Homo sapiens: one gene and its partners. The protein of the gene in region 2 interacts with the protein of the main gene of each other region in a pairwise test. Each region holds a gene or a part of one and is shown on either strand. Other genes may lie near its edges. The genes, in order: SLC2A13, FXYD6-FXYD2, TRHR, RNF170, SLC7A8 and SLC19A3.

Region 1 (3,790 bases), on a different chromosome or scaffold from region 2:
CATAATTCAAAATGAAAAACAATAGTGCTTAGTGGCTGAGTCAGGAAAAGACTTTGCTTTTTAGAAAAAAGATTTCTGCATTGTTCACATGACTTTATAGGTTGCAATAGGATTATTCATGATGAAGTATGAGGTTTCATTCTAATATCCTCATAAGTCCATGTGGTAGAGACGGAATGCCTGCTGCTTAGACCATTCTCCCAGAAGAGCTTCTCTCATCTCCCCGCAATCTCTTTACTCTGTGCTCTGGCCACTTATCATTTCTCTTTGCAAGAACAGGTTTGTCTGCCCTTAGCTCTCTCTAGTAGACTATAAATCCCTGGAGGGCCAGGACTGTGCCTTGTTCATTGTTACATTCCCAGTTCCTGCCAAGGCATCCTGTTCACCTGATAAGCACCAAAAAGTGTTTGTCAAATGAATAAATACATGGATAAATTTTGCAGATGAATGGTGAATATGATGAAACATTATAAAAATCTATTCCCCATCTCTTCTGACCATGCTGAACTGGTATTTGCTTTTAGTTAATGGTATTTATCTAATGCTTTTATTATCTTCATAAAACTCTTCTCTCTCCTAATCACCACTTAAGACATTTGAAATATTTATTTTCTTGGAAAGGAAATGCACTGGCATTTTAAACTGGATATATATTTAGTATATTCAGCTGGATCCCATTTGGCAATTAAAATTTTTCGATAAATTCATAAACTTATCTTCATGACATAATAAATACGAGCACAATAAATATTTCCTCGTATTTACTGATTCTAGAGAACACTTAAATATTTGAAGACCTAAGTATATGCTCGCATCCTGAGAAAGCATTTTTCATAGAAAGGCATAGACCAAATAATAAAAGTTTACATGATTATACTTTTGACAGCAAAGCTCCTCTTTCTTGAATTTATCCTGCCAGAAAACCAGAGAAAAATGAGGCAACAGTAATGAAATTTAAATAGGGCATAAGCAGAATTCTTTCAAAAATAAACAGTTAAAAGTGTGTTGCTTTGCATTAAGCTTCTCTCATGTCAGAGCACTGGTCCATTTGGTCTACTACTCTCTAGTAGTAGAAAAATAGTTCATTCAGGCTAGTTTTTCTCCCTTTTTGTGTCTCATTTTAATCCACATGTTACTGGTTTATGTAAGCTATGCATTTATATTCCTCATTTAATAAATATACATCCTAATCGTGTATTCCTCTGGAAATAGTTATGTCTTCTTTGTTGCCTCCTTTTTTATTGTTTCATAAGATCTCAAAATTTGATTCCTTCCTCAACCATATTGCTTACACAGGTCTGCCTTGTGCCCCCATTCAATAATGTTTATTACTAAAAAGTATCATTGCTATATCACCAATATGCCATTTTATATACAGCACATGTGGCTAAAGAGATCCCTTGGGGGGCATTATGTCAAAGCTTCTCTCTTGAGGTAGTCAATTTGTGTAATTCAATTAAATAGTTGTTTTAATCTGGAACTTAATGTAGGGCTCTAATAAGATTTAAATCCTTAGAAGAATAAAGGTGAGGAATATCTAACTGTTCAATAGTCCTGATGGACTCGTTACAGACATTTTTTCTTGCCATTTTCACTCCAAGGGAGGAATAAATGAGAAACTGAGATAGTGACTGATTTGACCATGACATGGACCAGGTCACAGCCTCCCAGGTCTGCCCACACTCCTCCACGACTTAGCCACAGGTCTAACCATTGGAACCCACACTGAGTAGGCAGTTTTGGCATTTGCGTGCTTTGGATTCCTCAGATTTTGTAAAACGGTCTTGTATTTTAATAGCAATTCCTTGATATTATTCAGCTTTGGGAATCCAGGTCACAAGAAAGAATCTGTAATCAACTTCAGGAATCTTCCTAACCCAACAAATGTTTTTTAACTATAGGAGTGAGTTTAGCGCTGACAGATTTGATTTGTTACTTCTAATTATGCTACTGTTCCCAAATTGTGAAAGATAATGATGAAGATAAAATATACTATTATATTTAAAAGTCAAACTGGGTTTGCTGTTACAGATTTTGTAGTTTAGAAGCCTAGTTTAATCTAAAATGTTTTACCATCTGTACTTATTTTTTCTTTATCTTCATCATAATTACTATCCCGTCTTTGTCCCTCCCTGCTAAAGATTCCATTTCTCTTCCTACCTCCACAGTCTTGCATATCTGTACTCAGAACACAGGACTTCATCTCCTTTCATTTTTTTTTTGTCAAAATTCCCCCATTCTCCAAGAGCTAGCTTATCAGTATCACCCTTTTTGTAAAAACATCCCAATTAATTAGTCACACTAATCTTATTCTGTATCTTAATAGCAACTCTTCCTTTCCTGGTCATTTAGTAGAATTTAACAATCTGGGCATCACTTTTTTGAGCAACTGATATTCAGAATTCTAATGGGCATGATAACATACATTATTTCTATTCTTTACAGTTGGGCAAAGCTAGAATTATTTTCCCCATTACACAGATCAAGTCTCTCTCTCAACCATCTCTTAACTATATCTCCTATACATGCCCCTGATTTTGGCTGTAAGATTTACAGAATCATAAACTGCCAACACTTAAGTAGGAGCTGAGAAGCCCCCTTATTTTACTTAATGAGGCAACAGAGGCCCAGAGAAGAGGTTAAATGACTATCCAGAAGTCACATGGCCAACACTTAAACTCAGTTCTTCCCACTCCCAGTCTGATATCCTTTCTCCAGCCAATTGTCACATTAGTTTTTCATCTTACTTCCCCCATCTCATACACATGATGGTCTGGACTGAAAGCCTAAAATTAGACAGGGGCTCCATTTTACTTTGTTGTTTTCCACCATCAAAAGTACAAGTATAGTTTCTTATATTCAAATTGGCAATTCAATTATGTGTGTGTGTGTGTGTGTGTTTGGTAGAGACAGGTTTCACCATGTTGGCCAGGCTGGTCGGAATTCAATTATTTTAAAAGTCCATCTTGGAAATGTGTAGAGAATATAAACAAGTCATACATTCATATATCTCATCCATCTAGGCTTGCTATCATGACCCTTAGAAAACCAAACTAGCTAATATTTATGTGTTTCTGGCTGTTCTGCATTGACATGCATAATCTTACAGCAAAACAAAATTCTCTGACTTCATGGAGTTTACATTCTAGTGGAGGGAAATGAAAAACAAATTAAGAAAGGAACTTCTTCTGACCTCAAAGTGCCTCTAGTGTAATAGACAAGGCAAGCATACGTGTGTGTACATAATTATAATATTTCTTGGTTGTTATTTTAGGGGTCTCAACAACATGCTGTGATAGCACATGGAAGAGAATAATTCCCTCTAGTCAGGGAAGGGAGGAAAGGCTTCAAAGCCAAACTTACATCTGAGCCTGTTCTATTATTCTTGAGTTTCTAAACTTGAGTTTAGAAAGATACATTACATCATATTCTCAGAGTTGGAACAATTGGAGTAAACCAGGTTCATAGTAATTTTTTGGTCCATTTCATACTGTGATTATGCATGACTGACCAGAAAAAAAAAGTCAAAATCAAGTAATCTTTCCAACTTAAGCCTCTCTCTATATATTCATATTCATGTATCTATTATATTCCGTTGCAGGAGCTTTCTTCCTCTATGCTGGATTTGCTGCTGTGGGACTCCTTTTCATCTATGGCTGTCTTCCTGAGACCAAAGGCAAAAAATTAGAGGAAATTGAATCACTCTTTGACAACAGGCTATGTACATGTGGCACTTCAGATTCTGATGAAGGGAGATATATTGAATATATTCGGGTAAAGGGAAGTAACT
Region 2 (2,841 bases):
CGGTGGTGAGTGTGCTGGTGTGCGTGCCCGGGCGTGTGCAATGCTGGGTGGCTCTGATTGGCCTGCCTTTGTGGGGTCAGCTGGACCCTACTCTTCCCTCTCCTGCCACCTCAGCCTTCCAGAGTACCCAGCCCCTCTTCCTGTCGGCCTCCTCTCTAAGAAAATTTGCAACTTAAAGGAGGACCCTGCTTTAACCCCAAAGAAAGATAGCTTGAGTGGCAGAAAGGCAGCAGATAGAAGCTGGAGAGCTGAGCGTTCCTCCTCGGCCTCCTGGCACACACCCGCCCTGAGTTCAATGCATCTTGCTAGACCGTCTGAACTTGGGCGGGAGGCAGACGGCGTCCATCTGGCTGGGGAAGGAGCAGGCCCCTCTGGTCAGCCTTCCTAGGCTGGATTTGGGGTGAGAGCCCGCCAAGTTCAAGTCACACTCTCCAAAGGCTTCCTGTCACAGGAACTGACTCAGGCCTGGAAACCAAGAGGGGCACTTGCTGACAGAGGTGGGTTTTGAGCCAGATGCAGAAAGGGGAGGGTGCTGGGCAGGGAGGGTCTCAGCAAGCGGCTCAGGGCCAGGTGGCCACGGAGGAGGAGGTTTCCTGGGGCGTGTGGGGAAGCCTCAGCTGGCGTCTAGCTGTTGCTCTGACACTTAAATCCCCATATGACCTTAAACAAGGCCTGAACCAAATCTGGGAAGACAGCCCTGACGGCCTTCTGTGTGGGACCTGGGTCCTTCATGGCCTCCCTGAGCACCCAGCACCTCAGGCCCGTCAGGATGGGCACTGACTCTTCCTGGCCTGTCCTTTCCTGGCCCAGGGACTGGCCGCTGGGGACAGCTGGGCTTGACAGACCCTAAGTCTCACTGCTGCTCAGGGGCACAGTTTGGCACAGCCCGGAAAGTGCTAACTTGCGCGTTCCTTCCTCCTCGGGCTCCACTTCCCTCGTGCGAGAAGGGGCTCCGGCAGGGCAGGAAAGAGTAGCGGCCCTTAGCTGTGGCAGAAGCGTCCTGGCCAGGCCACCGTCTGGCTGTCCGGGGCAAGTGTACTCAGTTGCAGGGCACCACTGTGAGACCTGCCTGCTGAGCGGCTCCAAATCCGGGGGAGGCCACCAGAGGCAGGGGCAGGACCTTACCTCTAACGGGCTCCTTCCCTCCCGCCATTGAGAGGTGGCAGATCAAAGGGCTTATGCACCTCCATTCTCAGCCCCCTGCTTCCTGGGTTCAAACACCAGCTCTACCCCTGACTTGCTGTATAACTGTGGGGGAATTTCTTCTCTGCACTTCCACCCTCTTGTGGATTACACCAGAATGACATTGACGCCTCATAAGGTTGCCATAATGGTTAGATGAGTTAGGGTTTGTTAGTTTTTGCCCGGTGCCTGACCAGCACTATATATTAATGTTTCTTAACTAGATCTGCTTCCCCTGAGGATGGTAACGCAGGAAAGGAGGTCTGTCTCAGCTTTCATTAGGACTTTGAACAAGTCTACACATTGGGCTCGGCTTCCTCCTTCTGTCTGATAAACTTTAAGGTTCTGTTTTATTTATTCATGCATTTCCCAAATAGCTGCTAAGCACCTGATAGCCAAATGGTCCTGTGGAGAGAGGCCGCTGGGAGTCTAATGGGAGAGGCTTCTCCTGGCCTTTTCTACCATGGTAGGAATCAAGGAGCAGGAGAGAGCCACCCTTCCGGAGTGGTCAGAGGCCCCCCAGACAGCACGGATCCCCCTCGGACACTCGGTATTTGGTCCCCAGTTGAGCGTGTCTGAAGCCGCCTGGAGCAGAAGCCTGCTGGCAATGGTTTTAGCAACACCCCTGCTCCCAGCCTCCCCTCGCCTGCTTGGACCCTCGAGGGTCCTCTGGGAAGGGAAGGACAGGGAATTCCAGCTGTTCCTGTGGCTGGCTCACCATCGGTGACTCCTCTCATCCCACCTCTGGCTCTCTCCTAGGCGGCAGCCCCAAGGGGGACGTGGACCCGTTCTACTATGGTAAGCCTGGGCCCCTGCGCACCCTTCCTGAGCCCTCAGGACCCCTTCCACCAAGCAGCGGCCTCTCCCAGCCCCAGGTCCATGCTCTGTGCCCCTTATCTCCCCTGGTTACCACGGGCTGCTGCGGGCAGGCTGCGGAGAGAGACAGCTGCTGGGAGAGACCACCCATCCCGCTCCTCTTGCCCTCTCTTTCCGGAGACTATGAGACCGTTCGCAATGGGGGCCTGATCTTCGCTGGACTGGCCTTCATCGTGGGGCTCCTCATCCTCCTCAGTAAGTGGGGTGGCCTCCAGGGAAGGGGTGCTGACCAGGGCACCTCTCTTCTCAAGGCCGCTGAGCAGGCTGGCTTTCGGGAGTTGCCAAGGGAGGGGTGAGCCTCCCCACCACGCCCCCCACTGCAGGATGTGGGAATGGGTGCCCGGTGGGGTGCCAGGCTCGCTGGGAGCACAGTGTGAGGTTCCTGCTTGCTCAAGTGCACCCTCCAGTGGGCCCGGGAGGAGCCGCAGAAGTGAGAGCAAACCCACGGGGTAACTGGGTAACCGGAGGGCCAGACAGGGGGACTAGGCCCCCCGCTGCTAACCATGGTCCCAAACTCATTTGTTAAATAGGGATGATCCCACCTGCCTCACAAGATTAGGGCTAGCATCCAAAGACATGGCAGTCAGGACAGCGCTCTGAGAACGGTCCAGTGCAGACTCGGAGTGTTCTGGGGGAGACAAAGAGAGTTATGTATCCTCAAGCCCCGAGGGGCACACAGCAGGAGCTTAATAACTGCACATTGACTTGTTTTGGTCCAACCCAAAGAAAAATACACAGAAAACACAACCCATGGAAAGAAGATACAGCAAGCACACCTGTGGG
Region 3 (2,530 bases), on a different chromosome or scaffold from region 2:
TTGAGTGATGATTATCTACCTTCTAAGATATAAAAATCATCTCAGAATTTTATAAACATTATGGCAACTTTTAAAATACAGTTAACATGTATGTCTAAAATCTTATTTTTACTCAATAAATAAAATGTTTCTGTAATATTTTTCCCTTTAATTTCAGATATTCATGAACTAGCCCTGTACTATGTTAAAATGAATACTAAATGCAAACATTTAAAAATCTGCATGTTGTCAAATTATCGAATGTATAAATAAATTAGGGAAGTTGAAAAGTGACATTTGATAAGGTTACTATGAATAATGTAAATTGATGTCTAGATTTTATTGAAACTCTATAAGTCCAGAAAATATAGTGAATTTCTTAAGTTAAATGAAAAGGGCTAAACTTTAAGTTTCCATCATTTAGCTATTTCACAGATCTGCTCCATTTTTAGTGATATTAGTTTGTAAGAAGGAAAGTCTGAATCATCCTCATGGGTTAAAGTATCTAGGGCCAGAATTTGTTAGAGCATTGACAAAGACTGATCTGCTCTGTCTTCACATATGACTATTGGCCATGTTCTCCCTTTTGTTGATGACTGCACAGATTCTCATTTTCTTTGTCATCCATTTTCTTCTAATTCATGAATCAACTTTGGCTAAAGGATACCTCAGAAGCCAAGCAGGTGTCATCAAAAGACACTTTTGTGGCAGACAGGTAAGTGTCAGTGACAGTGATATCATCAAGCTCTGTGCTGAAATGGTCTGACTCCTTGATGACGCTGTAATTTAGGGCCACACTGTAGTTAGCAGGTTTCTCTGTTGGCTTCTGCTTGCAGTTGCAGAGCTTTCTGAAGGCTGCACGGAATTTCTGGGACATGAGATTGTAAATCACCGGGTTGATGGCACTGTTGAGATAAATGCAAATTCTGCAAAAGAGCAAAAACCAATTTTCTTGGAAAGGACTGGAGAGAAATGAGTTGACAACCACTAGAGTCCTGTAGGGCATCCATAAAAGGGCAAACAGAATTACAACCACTGCCAGCATCTTGGTGACCTAGGGAGAAATAGAGAGAAATGCTGTACAAACACAAATGAAAACAAAACAAAACCCCCTTTCTTCTCTCACCCAAACCTTTAGTTCCCAAAATGTAGTCTGAGACAAGGAGTTAGGTGCAGGTCATTTATTGGGGAGGTGATCCCAGGAAGCAGGATTAAGGGTTATCAATTAGAATGCTATAGACAAGGAAAAGCCAAAGTAGGAAAAGCCAAAGCAGTGTGTTATTGAGATAGCTCCCCCTATAGCCAACTCTGGCTCAAGTAATGCAATTGAGAATTATCTGTCAGAAGTAAGAGAATGAATGCCAGCGTCCATTCATTAAAGGATATTGTTAAGGACTTTAACTCCTGTGTACTTCCAGGATTCTCTTGCCTGAAAACTCCTAGGGCCTTTAGAGAGACACTTGAGGCCAAGAAGAGGAGAGACAAATGGTACAGTGGATGCCTGAAGTGGGATATTTCCCACTGCAGGAACCATCTACTGCAGCTATGGCTGAAATCAGAGTCTTGTAAGAGAATGTTAGCACAGGGCACCAAAAGTGTCTGTGACAAGCATTAGGAGACTTAGGGTCAAATCCTTTCCTTACTTACCCTATGTGTGGCCTAAGAAATTATCTTAACCTATCTTATAGCTCATCTGTAAAATGGAGCCAACATTGCCCTCCTAAATCAAATGAGGTAACAGTGCATGAAAAGAATAATGCAAAAAAGTCAGTGTTTATTGAATGTTTAGTGACTGCTATGTGCCAGACACTATCCAAGGTGTTTATTTGTTACCATGTTTAAAAAGTTTTAAACCTCCTAAAATAGGTATTGTACCCACTACTTTTTCAAATTAGAAAACAGGTACAGAGGCTGTTAAGTACTTTGGTGGAAGCTGTAGAGTCTCAGGGCTGGGATTACTGTCCAAGTGAGCTTGAATTCAAAGCTTTTGCACTCTTTCAGGTTAAAGGGAAGTGAAAGAGAGAGAAAGCAAATGCTGGAATTTTACCTAATGCTGAAGCCACTCCTAAGTATAAGCAATGCACAGGAAGTAAGACAATAGGTAGGATGAGGTCAATATCCCAGATTGCTCACTGTTCACTGAGCTTCATTCTGACTCAATGTATGTAGGATATTAAGGCTACGTATCTTACCACTAGGAGTAGAAAAATTGTTCAGTGAGAATATGTGATTTCACACTGGTTCATATAATACCAACTAAGACATTCCAGAGATTCTGACTTCTTTTAGAGCCAAAGAGGGTCTACTTAGCAAAGGGGTTAACTGAAACATGATTTTTCCTAAGTAGACTTTAAAAAATATATATAAGTAAATAATTAGTCATAGGAAATCAAAGTGATAAATGTTCTAAGCTTTGGAAGGAGATGTAGTGATTATCATCTTCATTGTCATCATCACCATGATCTTCGTCATTATGAACCACACCCTTGCCTTTATTCTCTGCTTGGTACTCCAGGCACTCTGAAATCAGATCACTGCTTCACACTTGTCA
Region 4 (3,193 bases), on a different chromosome or scaffold from region 2:
AGGTTCAAGCGATTCTCCTGTCTCAGCCTCCCAAGTAGCTGGGACTACAGGTGCGTGCCACCACACCTGGCTAATTTTTGTATTTTAGTAGAGACGGGGTTTCACTATGTTGGCCAGGCTGGTCTCAAACTCCTGACCTTGTGATCTGCCCGCCTTGGCCTCCCAAAATGCTGGGATTACAGGTGTGAGCCACTGCGTCCAGCAGAATTTCATATAATTTAAAACAAAATTTGTTGCATTGAACTGAATGTTGAATTTTTCTTTGTAAAACATCTCCGTGACTAAATTTTCACTGTGGTCTGCAAATTAATTTATTTGCTTAATAGAAAAATAATTTTCAGCACTGGGCATGGTGGTTCACACCTGTAATCCCAGCACTTTGGAAGGCTGAGCCTGGGAGTTTTAGACCAGCCTGGGCAACACAGCCAGACCATGTATCTACAAACTTTTTTTTTTTTTTTTTTAATTAGCCAGGTGTGATGGCACACATCTATAGTCCCAGCTACTTGGGAGGCTGAGACAGGAGGATCACTGGAGCCCAGGAATTCGAGGCTGCAGTCAGCTATGATTGTAACACTGCACTCCAACCTGGGCAAGAGTGAGACCCTGTCTCTGACCAAAAAACAAACACACAAACAAAATAAAAAACCTAACAAAATTAATTAGAAATGTGATGAGATATTGGATGTCCATTAGTGATAAAGCCGTTGCAACCATTATACTGAATGCTCTTTCAGGAGTTCTGAAAGCAAACAACTGTTAAATAAACAGAAAAATAACACCTTTAAAATGTTTTAGATATGTTGCTTTTATTCAAAAGAATAAAATGCTTGACAAACTCTTTAATCACAAGGTTTGAACCAAACCACCAGTCTTCTACAACAACTCTGTGAGGTAGGTATCTGCATAGCCACAAGGGATCCACATAGTCCTTTCTTCCCTTGTACCTCTCAAACACTGAGAATTGTAGTAGTTGAAACCACTGTTCTAGTGGGCAGTTAGAACAGTTGTTTTCCCCGTCTTGTTCCCCACAGAGCTGCCCAAGTTATTATCTGCTCCTGGGGTTGGACCATCTGTTTTATGACAGTTATGATATTGTTGTTTAAAAAAAATCCAAATTGTTACTTTGATTTATATGATCTAACTCTGAATCACGGAAGTATTACTATGATGTTCAAAACTCTGATTGACTCTACTTGCTTTAAAAACTCTCAGATCCCTTCTGCATTTATCATCAGAGATCGGTAAAGATGACAACAAGCAGGTCTAAAGTTCTGAGATGTTAGCACATACCCTTTTCACAATTTAGGAAGCTTTAAGATCATTTAGTATTTTTTTATGTTACAAAATTTGGTACAATACACCTCTTTCAGGAAAGTCTTAGTAGTAACTCCAAATATTATAATTATTGTAACCAGAATTGTGACACTTGGAGCAGAATGCATGCACACAAAATAAAATCCTGTCAAAAAATGACATCACCATTCCCCCACACCAAATGTGTAATTGGTAGGAAATGCATTTCCAGTCTGGTACATGGCAGTGTGACAAACTCCTACTCACTCGCTTTTCAAGTTGGTGACTGCAGCTGAAATGTTTTTCTGTGATGTATGCCACCCTTTTACCTATTTGATTTGGAAGTGTAGAATTCGGATTCATGTCATCTCCACAGACCTTTCCTCTTAGGAGTGCCTAAGCTGTCTTACTCTGATGGAGGTATAATGTAGCACGAAAGACTTCCAAAGAACCAGTTTCTCTCTTGCTGTTCCTCTTAACAACTTTCACGTCTATCTAAACATTCTATGCAGGAGTCCTACTAAGAAATTTTGGTGTAATGCCACTTTGATCAGTTATTTGTTGTATGACTTCATTCAAAAACACTTTCATCAATAGCATGGGGATTGTATCTATGAAAGGGAAGTTGGTGTCCTGCGTTCCTCACAAAATTATCCAAAGGATAAAATGAAAAGTATGTGAGAAACCTGCTTTAATTATAATGTGCTATGTTTAAGCATTATTGTTTTTCTCTATGACAAGCAACAGCTCTGTCCTAGGTCCAAATTAGAAAAACACATATTGATATTTCATTCAGAATCTCATTAATTGGTAGCTGATCTGATTAGCTAGAGAGAATGTGACAGATTTTCTCCTTATCTCCCAGTCTGCATATAGTGAAGCTCACTAATAAATTAATGGATGATATTAATAGCAGTGATCTCAGATGACAATGCTAACACTGACTCCTGGGCATCCCCTCACATCCTGCTGTCATACATTCACTAATGAGCAACGCCAGCTGAAGTGAGTAAGATCTCCCAGTACCATGTGGTACTGAGTCTTCTCAGATACATTCACTTGTTTGGCTCAAGACATGAATCTGAGCTGTGTGCTGCCATCCTGAGACAGTATTATAAAAATTTCTGACAACAGAAAACTAACAAAATTTGTCCAATCTGTTGCTATAGCTAACCAGTAATTTCTTTTGTCAAATGTAAATACCGTTCCCAGTACCTTCCTATTGGCTTGATGCTCAAAGACACGAAGATTCACCTTCCTCAGAAATGCATCAGGCTACTCTGTGTTTGCAGCATCGCCCAGGTTCCTAAAACAATCTTCCCTTTACAAATTACTTTTATATCTACTACGAAAGGATGAGCTCTTGTTTAAATGTCTAACTGTGAACATCAAGTGTGCTGACTGGAGATAAATGTTTTTCATCTTTTTTTTTTTTTTTTTTGAGAGGGAGTCTCACTCTGTTGCCCAGGCTGGAGTGCAGTGGCGCAATCCACCTCCTGGGTTTACGCCATTCTTCTGCCTCAGCCTCCCGAGTAGCTGGGACTACAGGCGCCTGCCACCACGCCTGGCTAATTTTTTGTATTTTTAGTAGAGACGGGGTTTCACCATGTTAGCCAGGATGGTCCTGATCTCCTGACCTTGTGATCTACCCGCCTCAGCCTCCCAAAGTGCTAGGATTACAGGCGTGAGCCACCCCGCCCGGCCATGTTTTTCATCTTAATTCTTCTATTGATTAAAATGTGTTCTGTAAACTAGAATATGATATCGAAGTATGAAGTTCAAGTTTCTTCTTTCAGTTTCAGCTGATAGCAAATAATTAATTATACCAGAATGAAAAGGCAGAACTGCTCCAAATGCACAAAACTTAGCTAGCACTAAAAGAAATACTGAATTTTCC
Region 5 (3,790 bases), on a different chromosome or scaffold from region 2:
AAAAAAAAAATTGGGATTTAGTAAGAGCTCAATAAATACTATTTTAAAAAATCATGTTAGTTGGGAGATAGTGGTCTAGTAGCTAGATCAGCATCCAGTATTGTTCTGTAGCAAATATACCAAGATCCCCCAAAAACATAAATTGTGCTGAAAACAAAATGGTCTGACATTATATACTTTTTAATTTTATTATTACAGCTCTCTGGCCAGCTTTTTCACCTTTGTTAAGTTTAGCTGAAAGCTGCCTCCTTACATATTTTAAATTCCACTTAAAGATTTCTCCATATGTAGTGAAACGTAACCTAACTGGATGTGTAAATAGACTGTAACCTACTTTTGTACCATTCACTGAGTTTCAGCCAATCAAAGGCAGCCAACTGTCCAACCCTTGTTCAAATAAGGAAAATGTAGAGCTGTAACTAATCAAGCTGTTTCTGTACCTTGCTTCTATTTCCTGTATGTCACTTGCCTTTTTCTGCCCATAAATCTTCTTCGACCATGAGGCTGCCCCAGAAACTCTGAATCAGTTCTGGTTCAAGAGGCTGCCTGATTCACAAATTGTTCTTTGCTCAATTAAACACTGTTAAATTTAATTTGTTTAAGGTTTTCCTTTTAATGCCTTCAAGACACAGATTCTGGTTACATACCTAGATACGTGACTGGTATAAAGTACCTAAATGGCCAGGAACTCTGTGGGTACCTCTAACACGGCTGGGAAGAACACTGGTCCATAAAGGAAAGGTGTGCATGTGCAGGAATGAATGCGAGCATGGTCTGTGCTGGCCAGATGCCCCTCAGGCTCACCCAAGTCTTCCTGCAATTGCACCGGGAATATTACTTTCTTCCACTCCCAGCTGACAGCCCAGCTCCCCTGCTATACTGGGAGTCTTCCTCACTGGGAACACAAAATTAATTGCTATACAATAAGTATTCATTCATCTATAAAAATGAATAAGGACCTCTGTCCAGATTCTAAAAGAAAATACTCCTTTAGGAGATAAAAATAGAAATAGTGAAGAATAATGCTTACAAGCTTGATTCAGGATGCAGACAAGCTCTGGGTTTGAATCCTAGCTCCAATATTTTTTAGTTGTGTGACCTTCAGCAAAGTTGCTTACCCCTTTGAGCCTTTATTTCCTATCTGGAGGAAGAGGTAATAAAGTGTCTACCAAATGAGTTACTGTGAATGACAAATAAGTTCAGGTATGTTAGGTAATTGGATGAGTACCTGGCATATACTAAGTGTTTAATAAACACAGCTATTAACAGTAGCTCTGGTATCATTAATAAATGAACTTTGCTGTCCTCCGCACCCTCTTTCGACTTTGGGGGGAACTCCACGTTCATGGTGAAATCTAAATTAATATGCTGCCAACAGGTTTCCTTAGCCAAGTACATGGAGAACAAAAGCCTGATTAGGTTAGGACAAGGATGATGTTAAAAGATTAAAATGGGCCAACCTAATTGTCCAGGTTGATAAAACTACTCCTAGCTTAAAGATTTTCAAGCCAGGTTCCCAGCAGCCCTGCAGATAAATGTTTCCTATTCATATTTTTGTCCTAGAGTCGGTTAAATTCAACAATCATTTGAGTAAGTATTCCTTAGCAGGCATTCTGTTAAACACTAAAGATTCAGAAACATATAAGACACTTGCTTTTTTTTTTTAAGAGGCAAGGTTTTGTTGGGCACGGTGGCCCACACGTGTAACCCCAACACTTCGGGAGGCTGAGGCAGGAGGATTGCTTGAGCCCAGGAGTTCAAGATAGCCTGGGCAACATAGGGAGACCCTGTCTCTAAAAAAAATTAAAAATAATTTTAAAAATTATTAAGCTACTTGGGAGGCTGAGGTGGGAGAATTGCTTTCGAGGCTGCAGTGAGCTATGATTGCACCACTGTACTCCAGCCTGGTTAACAGAGTGAGATCTTGTCTCCAAAAAAAAAAAAAAAAAAAAAAAATGAAGATGAGGTCTTGCTCTGTTGCCTAGGCTGGCTTGAAACTCCTGGGCTAAAATGATCAAGGAGATGGGACTACAGGTATCCACCACCACACCTGGCTCAATTTTTCTCATAGTTCAATTTTTTTTTACGGACACAATCTTTGATCTAGGAAATAACAGTTTAGTCATTATGCTTTTACCTAAGAAAACTCCCAGAATCAGCTCCCCTACTTCATCTTCTCCTCAAAGCCTTCAAGATGCTTCTTAATCTAGTTCTTAGTAAGAACCTCTCTCTCCTGGCTTCCCACCATTCACATAACTTTGCCCTACTTTAGCTCTTTCACAACTAAACCATGTCATTAATTTTGAATGTTCTCTGTTTAGTACATATGCATCTCATCCTCCCAATCAGGATATAAGGAACTCTCTGGCATAAGTCTTCTATTAATTCATTGTATATTTCCATAACACCTACCATTCTGTTATCCTTGCTTTCAATCATCCATGTTGATTGTGAATGAAATTTTACAAAACATGTAGTTTAAATTATCCCTCTTAGTCAGTAAGGTATGAGAGAGATAGATTTAGGGCAAATGTAACTTTGCCACAGTCCCTGAAAAAAAAAAAAAGATCTGGGGGCCGGGCACGGTGGCTCATGCCTGTAATCCCAGCACTGATAGGCCGAGGTGGGAGGATTTCTTGAGCCCAGGAGTTGGAGACCAGCCTGGGCGATACAGTGAGACCCTGTTTCTACAAGAAAAAATTTAAAATAGCTAGGTGTCGTGGTGTATGCCTGTGGTCACAGCTACTGAGGAAGCTGAGGTGGAAGGATCGCTTGAGCCCAGGAGTTTGAGGCTGCAGCGATGCAGTGAGCACGCCACAGCACTCCAGCCTAGGCAACACAGCGAGACACTGTCTCAGAAAAAAAAGAAAGAAAGAAAGAAAGATGGGACAAATTCTACTTTTCCATAACATGTCTCCTGATTCACTTAGAAAACTTCCTTTCTCTTTTTGACTTTTTTTTTTTTTTTTTGAGATGGAGTCTCACTCTGTCACCCAGACTGGAGTGCAGTGGCGCAACCTTGGCTCACTGCAACCTCTGCCTTCTGGGTTCAAGCAATTCTCCTGCCTCAGCCTCACGAGTAGCTGGGACTACAGGCATGCGCCACGACGCCCGGCTAATTTTTTGTATTTTTTAGTAGAGACGAGGTTTCACCGTGTTAGCCAGGATGGTCTTGATCTCCTGACCTCGTGATCCGCCCGCCTTGGCCTCCCAAAGTGCTGGGATTACAGGTGTGAGCCACCGCACCCGGCCCTTTTTTTGCCTTTTAGTTCTCTTTTTTTCTGCAGTGTTGACATTGGACACCAGATCCCTGAAATCTACACAGAAAATGCCATTTCTATTTTTGCATTTGGTCTTGAAAACACTTGAATCACGATCATCCACTGAGAAACTTCTCCAGAAGAGGAAAGGGCAGTTCCTCAGCACATCTGTGACTCAACAGCAACTCGGGAGGGGAAGCAGAATGGATTTTGTCCCCTGTTATCATCTTAAAGGGGAAATTTGTTTCTAGCTTAAGTTGGGGTAGAATAGTGCCTATTAACTCTACAAGGATTCTCATGTTTTGCAAAAATATCCCAATTTCTCTGAAATCACATATTTGGAATCTCTTTTCATCACAGAACACCAGAATTGCCATTCTAGTTACTGTAATGCCACCATGGGGAGCTTTGAGATTATTCTCCCATTGAAGTACCATCCATAAGGTTGTGGACAAATCAGTAGTAACATATACCCACAGAAATTGTACTTATTATACCTGAACACTCCCATTTCTTCATAATCTTAGAAA
Region 6 (3,766 bases), on a different chromosome or scaffold from region 2:
TAACTGGACTGACCCTATTGCTAGGCTTAAATACTTATTTGATCTTACCAAAGAAGTCAACACATGGGACCTTTGTGTCACATGAACCATTTTCTTTCCTCTTCTATTAAGTGTATTTCTGTTTAAGTTACAGTTCTCTAAGAGAATTACAATGTTTGTCCCATTTCTAAGGGCTTCTCTTCAACTCTAATAACAGCATTATTCACGTTATGATTTGATAGTATTATTATTTAATTTTTTTATGATTATTTTCCATTTTGTGCTCTGAGTTTTGCTGTTGAAAGTCTCCCTCAAGAATAGCTTCAGATCCTCTTGTGTATTTGCAGAATACACAAGGTCATTTCCCAGTGGCCTGGGAGAGGCAGTGAGCCTTCTCTCCACCACCATAGACAGGTGTTAATGCATCTATGGGCCAGGTGCAGTGGCTCACTCCTGTAATCCGAGCAATTTGGGAGGCCAAGGTGGGAGTTTTGCTTGAGGCCAGAGGTTCAAGACCAGCCTGGGCAACACAGTGACACCTGACTCTACTAAAAAATTAAAAAATTAGCTGGGCAGCGTGGTGTGTGCCTGTAGTCTCAGCTACTTGGGAGGCCATGGTGGGAGGATGGGTTGAGCACAGGAGTCAGAGGCTACAGTGAGCTATGATTGCACCATTGCACTCCAGCCTGGGCAACAGAGTAAGACTCTCATCCCCCTCCTCCCAAAAAAGAGCACCTGTGTGGTGTCTGTCTAAAATAGGAAAACTTAAAGGAGGTTTCTAGAAGTATTAGAAATAAGAAAACACTGATGGGGGGAGTGGAATAAAACACCTGATTTTGTTTTGTTTTGGTTTTTGAGACAGTCTCGCTCTCTCACCCAGGCTGGAATGCAATGGCGTGATCTTGGCTCACTGCAAACTTCACCTCCTGAGTTCAAGCCATTCTCCTACCTCAGCCTCCCAAGTAGCTGGGACTATGGGTGCACACCACCACGCCTGGCTAATTTTTGTATTTTTAGTGGAGATGGGGTTTCACAATGTTGGCCAGGCTGGTCTCAAACTCCTGACTTCAGGTGATCTGTCTGCCTCGGCCTCCCAAAGAGCTGAGATTACAGGCGTGAGCCACCATGCCTGGCCAAAACACCTGATTTTTAAATGGTAGCAATTGTGCTAAATAAAATGTGTAAAAATTTTAAAGAGTTGTTAACATTTTTTGATGAATTCTGCTGAAAATTATCTGAACATACCTGTTTTTCGAAACTTCAAGAAACTTCAATAAGGGATGCATTGAGCAGTCTGACAGTGAGAATAAAGAATGCTGAGTCAAGATTTATATTAAGGCTGGAAGCTGTGGCTCACACCTGTAATCCCAGCATTTTGGGAGGCTGAAGTGAGAGGTTAATTTGAGGGTAGGGGTATGAGACCATCTTGGCCAATATAGCAAGACCCTGTGTCTAAAACAAACAAAAAAATTTTTAATTGGATTTTGATATGGTTTGGATCTGTGTCCCCACCAAATCTCACGTTGAAGTGTAATCCCCAATGTTAGAGGTGGGGCCGGCTGGGAGGCGACTGGATCATGGGTGTGAAGCCTTCATGAATGGTTTGGCACCGTCCCCTCAGTGCTGGTCTCATGACAGTGAGTTATCGTGAGATCTGGTAGTTTAAAAGTGTGTAGCACCTCCCCACTCTCTCTTTCTCCTGCTTTGGCCACGTGAAGATGCCTGCTCCCACTTTGCCTTCTGCCATGAGTAAAAATTCCCCGAGGACTCCCTAGAAGCAGATGTTGCCACGCTTCCTATATAGCCTGTGAGCTAATTAAACCCCTTTTCTTACAAACTATCTAGTCTCAGGTGTTTCTTTATAGCAATGTGATAATGGACTAATATGTTTCTCAAGTATACTCCTCTCCAAATCCCGAAATTCTTCACTGGACTAAGATCCAGCCCAAGAATCAATGCACTCACTTAGTGGAGAAAACTAATAACATTCCTACTTACATTAAAGGCAAGGAAGGAATGGCCGCTATTCTTTTTCTTCTTCTTCTTTTTTTTTTTTTTTTTTTTTTTTTGATAGAATCTTGCTCTGTCACCCAGGCTGGAGTGCAATGACGCAATGTCAGCTCACTGCAACCTCCGCCTCCCGGGTTCAAGCAATTCTCCTGCCTCAGCCTCCCGAGTAGCTGGGATTACAGGCGTGCACCACCATGCCCGGCTGATTTTTGTATATTTAGTAGAGACGGGGTTTCACCATGTTGGTCAGGCTGGTTTCAAACTCCTGGTCTCAGGTGATCCGCCCGTCTCGGTCTCCCAAAGTGTTGGGATTACAGGCTTCAGCCACCTCACACCCAGTCTATTATCCTTCTTTTTTAACTTATTATTCTGGAGGCATTAGGCATCACAATTAGACAAACAAGAAAAATCAGAGGTCAGAAATTGGAAAGGAGGCCAGGTGCAGTGGCTCACGCCTGTAATCCCAACACTTTGGGAGGCTGAGGCGGTCAGATCACATGAGGCCAGGAATTGGAGGCAAGCCTGGGCAACATGATGAAACCCTGTATGTACTAAAAACAACAAAATTAGCCGGGTGTGGTCCATGCCTGTAATCCCAGCCACTCGGTGGCTGAAGCATAAGAGTCACTTAAACCCAGGAGGCAGAGGTTGCAGTGAGTTGAGATTGTGCCACTGCACTCCAGCCTGAGCGACAGAGTGAGACCCAAAGTGGATTAAAAAATGCATTATGATTCCTTCACATATTCACCTATAACAAAATTAACTGCTAAAAAATGAGGAAGATCTTTAGTGACACAGAACTCTAAGAGCTCTACTATCAAGTGGAAAAAAGTCAAGCACCAAAATAATAATGAACGCAGCAACTCAGCATTTGTATAAAAAGGACAAAAATATCTGTATTGGCTTATATATGCGTATAACTTTTCTAAAAAGACAAATGAGGCCTGGCACGGTGGCTCATGCCTGTAATCCTGGCACTTTGGGAGGCTGAGGTAGGTGGATTGCTTGAGTTCAGGAGTTCAAAACCAGCCTAGGCAACATGGCAAAACCCTGTCTCTACAAAAAATACAAAAATTAGCTGGGCATGGTGGCTTGCACCTGGACTCCCAGCTACTTGAGGGGATGAGAAGGGAGGATCGCTTGAGCCCAGGAGGTGGAGGTTGCAGTGAGCTGAGATCATGCCACTGCACTCCAGCCCTGATGACAGAGTGAGACCCTGTCTTGAACAAACAAACCAACAATCAAACAAATAAATAAACAACTGAAACTCATACCAATGATTGCCTACTGTGGAGTAATGGGAAATGGGAGGGAGACATCACATTCTCATGGTGTTTGATGCTTGCACCAAATGAATAACCCACCAGTAAATTAAAATACGACTTTTACAAAAAAGCATTTAACCTCTTGGGAAATAAATTCGCATTGAAGAATAAGGAGCTGGAGATTTGCCATGCAACCATTATGATAGTTTTATATTTTTGGCAATGTGAATGGATTACTAAATGTGCATTTATAATTAAAAGGAACAAACAACAGAAGAAAAAAATAAGTGGGCCTGGTTGGGCACCTTGGCTTGTTCCTGGAATCCCACCACTTTGGGAGGCTGAGGAGGGAGGATCGCTTGAGCCCAGGAGTTTAAGACCACCCTGGGCAACATAGTGAGACTCCATCTCAAAAAAATTAATAATAATAAGTAGACCTGACATTGAAAAATTAAATTAAAATTTTTTATTTGGTATCTCAGTAATGAAAAAAATTTTTTAAATAATGACCC

The links.
Region 1: the proteins of FXYD6-FXYD2 (region 2) and SLC2A13 interact in a two-hybrid assay, tested with the Homo sapiens proteins (one large-scale study listed by BioGRID).
Region 3: the proteins of FXYD6-FXYD2 (region 2) and TRHR interact in a two-hybrid assay, tested with the Homo sapiens proteins (one large-scale study listed by BioGRID).
Region 4: the proteins of FXYD6-FXYD2 (region 2) and RNF170 interact in a two-hybrid assay, tested with the Homo sapiens proteins (one large-scale study listed by BioGRID).
Region 5: the proteins of FXYD6-FXYD2 (region 2) and SLC7A8 interact in a two-hybrid assay, tested with the Homo sapiens proteins (one large-scale study listed by BioGRID).
Region 6: the proteins of FXYD6-FXYD2 (region 2) and SLC19A3 interact in a two-hybrid assay, tested with the Homo sapiens proteins (one large-scale study listed by BioGRID).

The regions. Positions count from the first base shown.
Region 1 is NC_000012.12:39,760,064-39,763,853, reverse strand, and holds part of SLC2A13 (proton myo-inositol cotransporter), read left to right. Parts: intron 1-3,601; coding exon 3,602-3,790. UniProt on the Homo sapiens protein: H(+)-myo-inositol cotransporter. Can also transport related stereoisomers.
Region 2 is NC_000011.10:117,821,818-117,824,658, reverse strand, and holds part of FXYD6-FXYD2 (FXYD6-FXYD2 read-through protein isoform 1 precursor), read left to right. Parts: coding exon of another isoform or gene 1-5; intron 6-1,941; coding exon 1,942-1,980; intron 1,981-2,178; coding exon 2,179-2,253; intron 2,254-2,841. Other genes in the region: FXYD2 (sodium/potassium-transporting ATPase subunit gamma), read left to right, coding at 1-5, 1,942-1,980, 2,179-2,253.
Region 3 is NC_000008.11:109,117,551-109,120,080, reverse strand, and holds part of TRHR (thyrotropin-releasing hormone receptor), read right to left. Parts: intron 1,034-2,530; coding exon 626-1,033; 3' UTR 1-625. UniProt on the Homo sapiens protein: Receptor for thyrotropin-releasing hormone (TRH). Upon ligand binding, this G-protein-coupled receptor triggers activation of the phosphatidylinositol (IP3)-calcium-protein kinase C (PKC) pathway.
Region 4 is NC_000008.11:42,852,511-42,855,703, forward strand, and holds the end of RNF170 (E3 ubiquitin-protein ligase RNF170), read right to left. Parts: 3' UTR 791-3,193; downstream 1-790. UniProt on the Homo sapiens protein: E3 ubiquitin-protein ligase that plays an essential role in stimulus-induced inositol 1,4,5-trisphosphate receptor type 1 (ITPR1) ubiquitination and degradation via the endoplasmic reticulum-associated degradation (ERAD) pathway.
Region 5 is NC_000014.9:23,176,954-23,180,743, forward strand, and holds part of SLC7A8 (large neutral amino acids transporter small subunit 2), read right to left. Parts: intron 1-3,790. UniProt on the Homo sapiens protein: Associates with SLC3A2 to form a functional heterodimeric complex that translocates small and large neutral amino acids with broad specificity and a stoichiometry of 1:1.
Region 6 is NC_000002.12:227,683,263-227,687,028, reverse strand, and holds the end of SLC19A3 (thiamine transporter 2), read left to right. Parts: 3' UTR 1-3,266; downstream 3,267-3,766. UniProt on the Homo sapiens protein: Mediates high affinity thiamine uptake, probably via a proton anti-port mechanism. Has no folate transport activity. Mediates H(+)-dependent pyridoxine transport.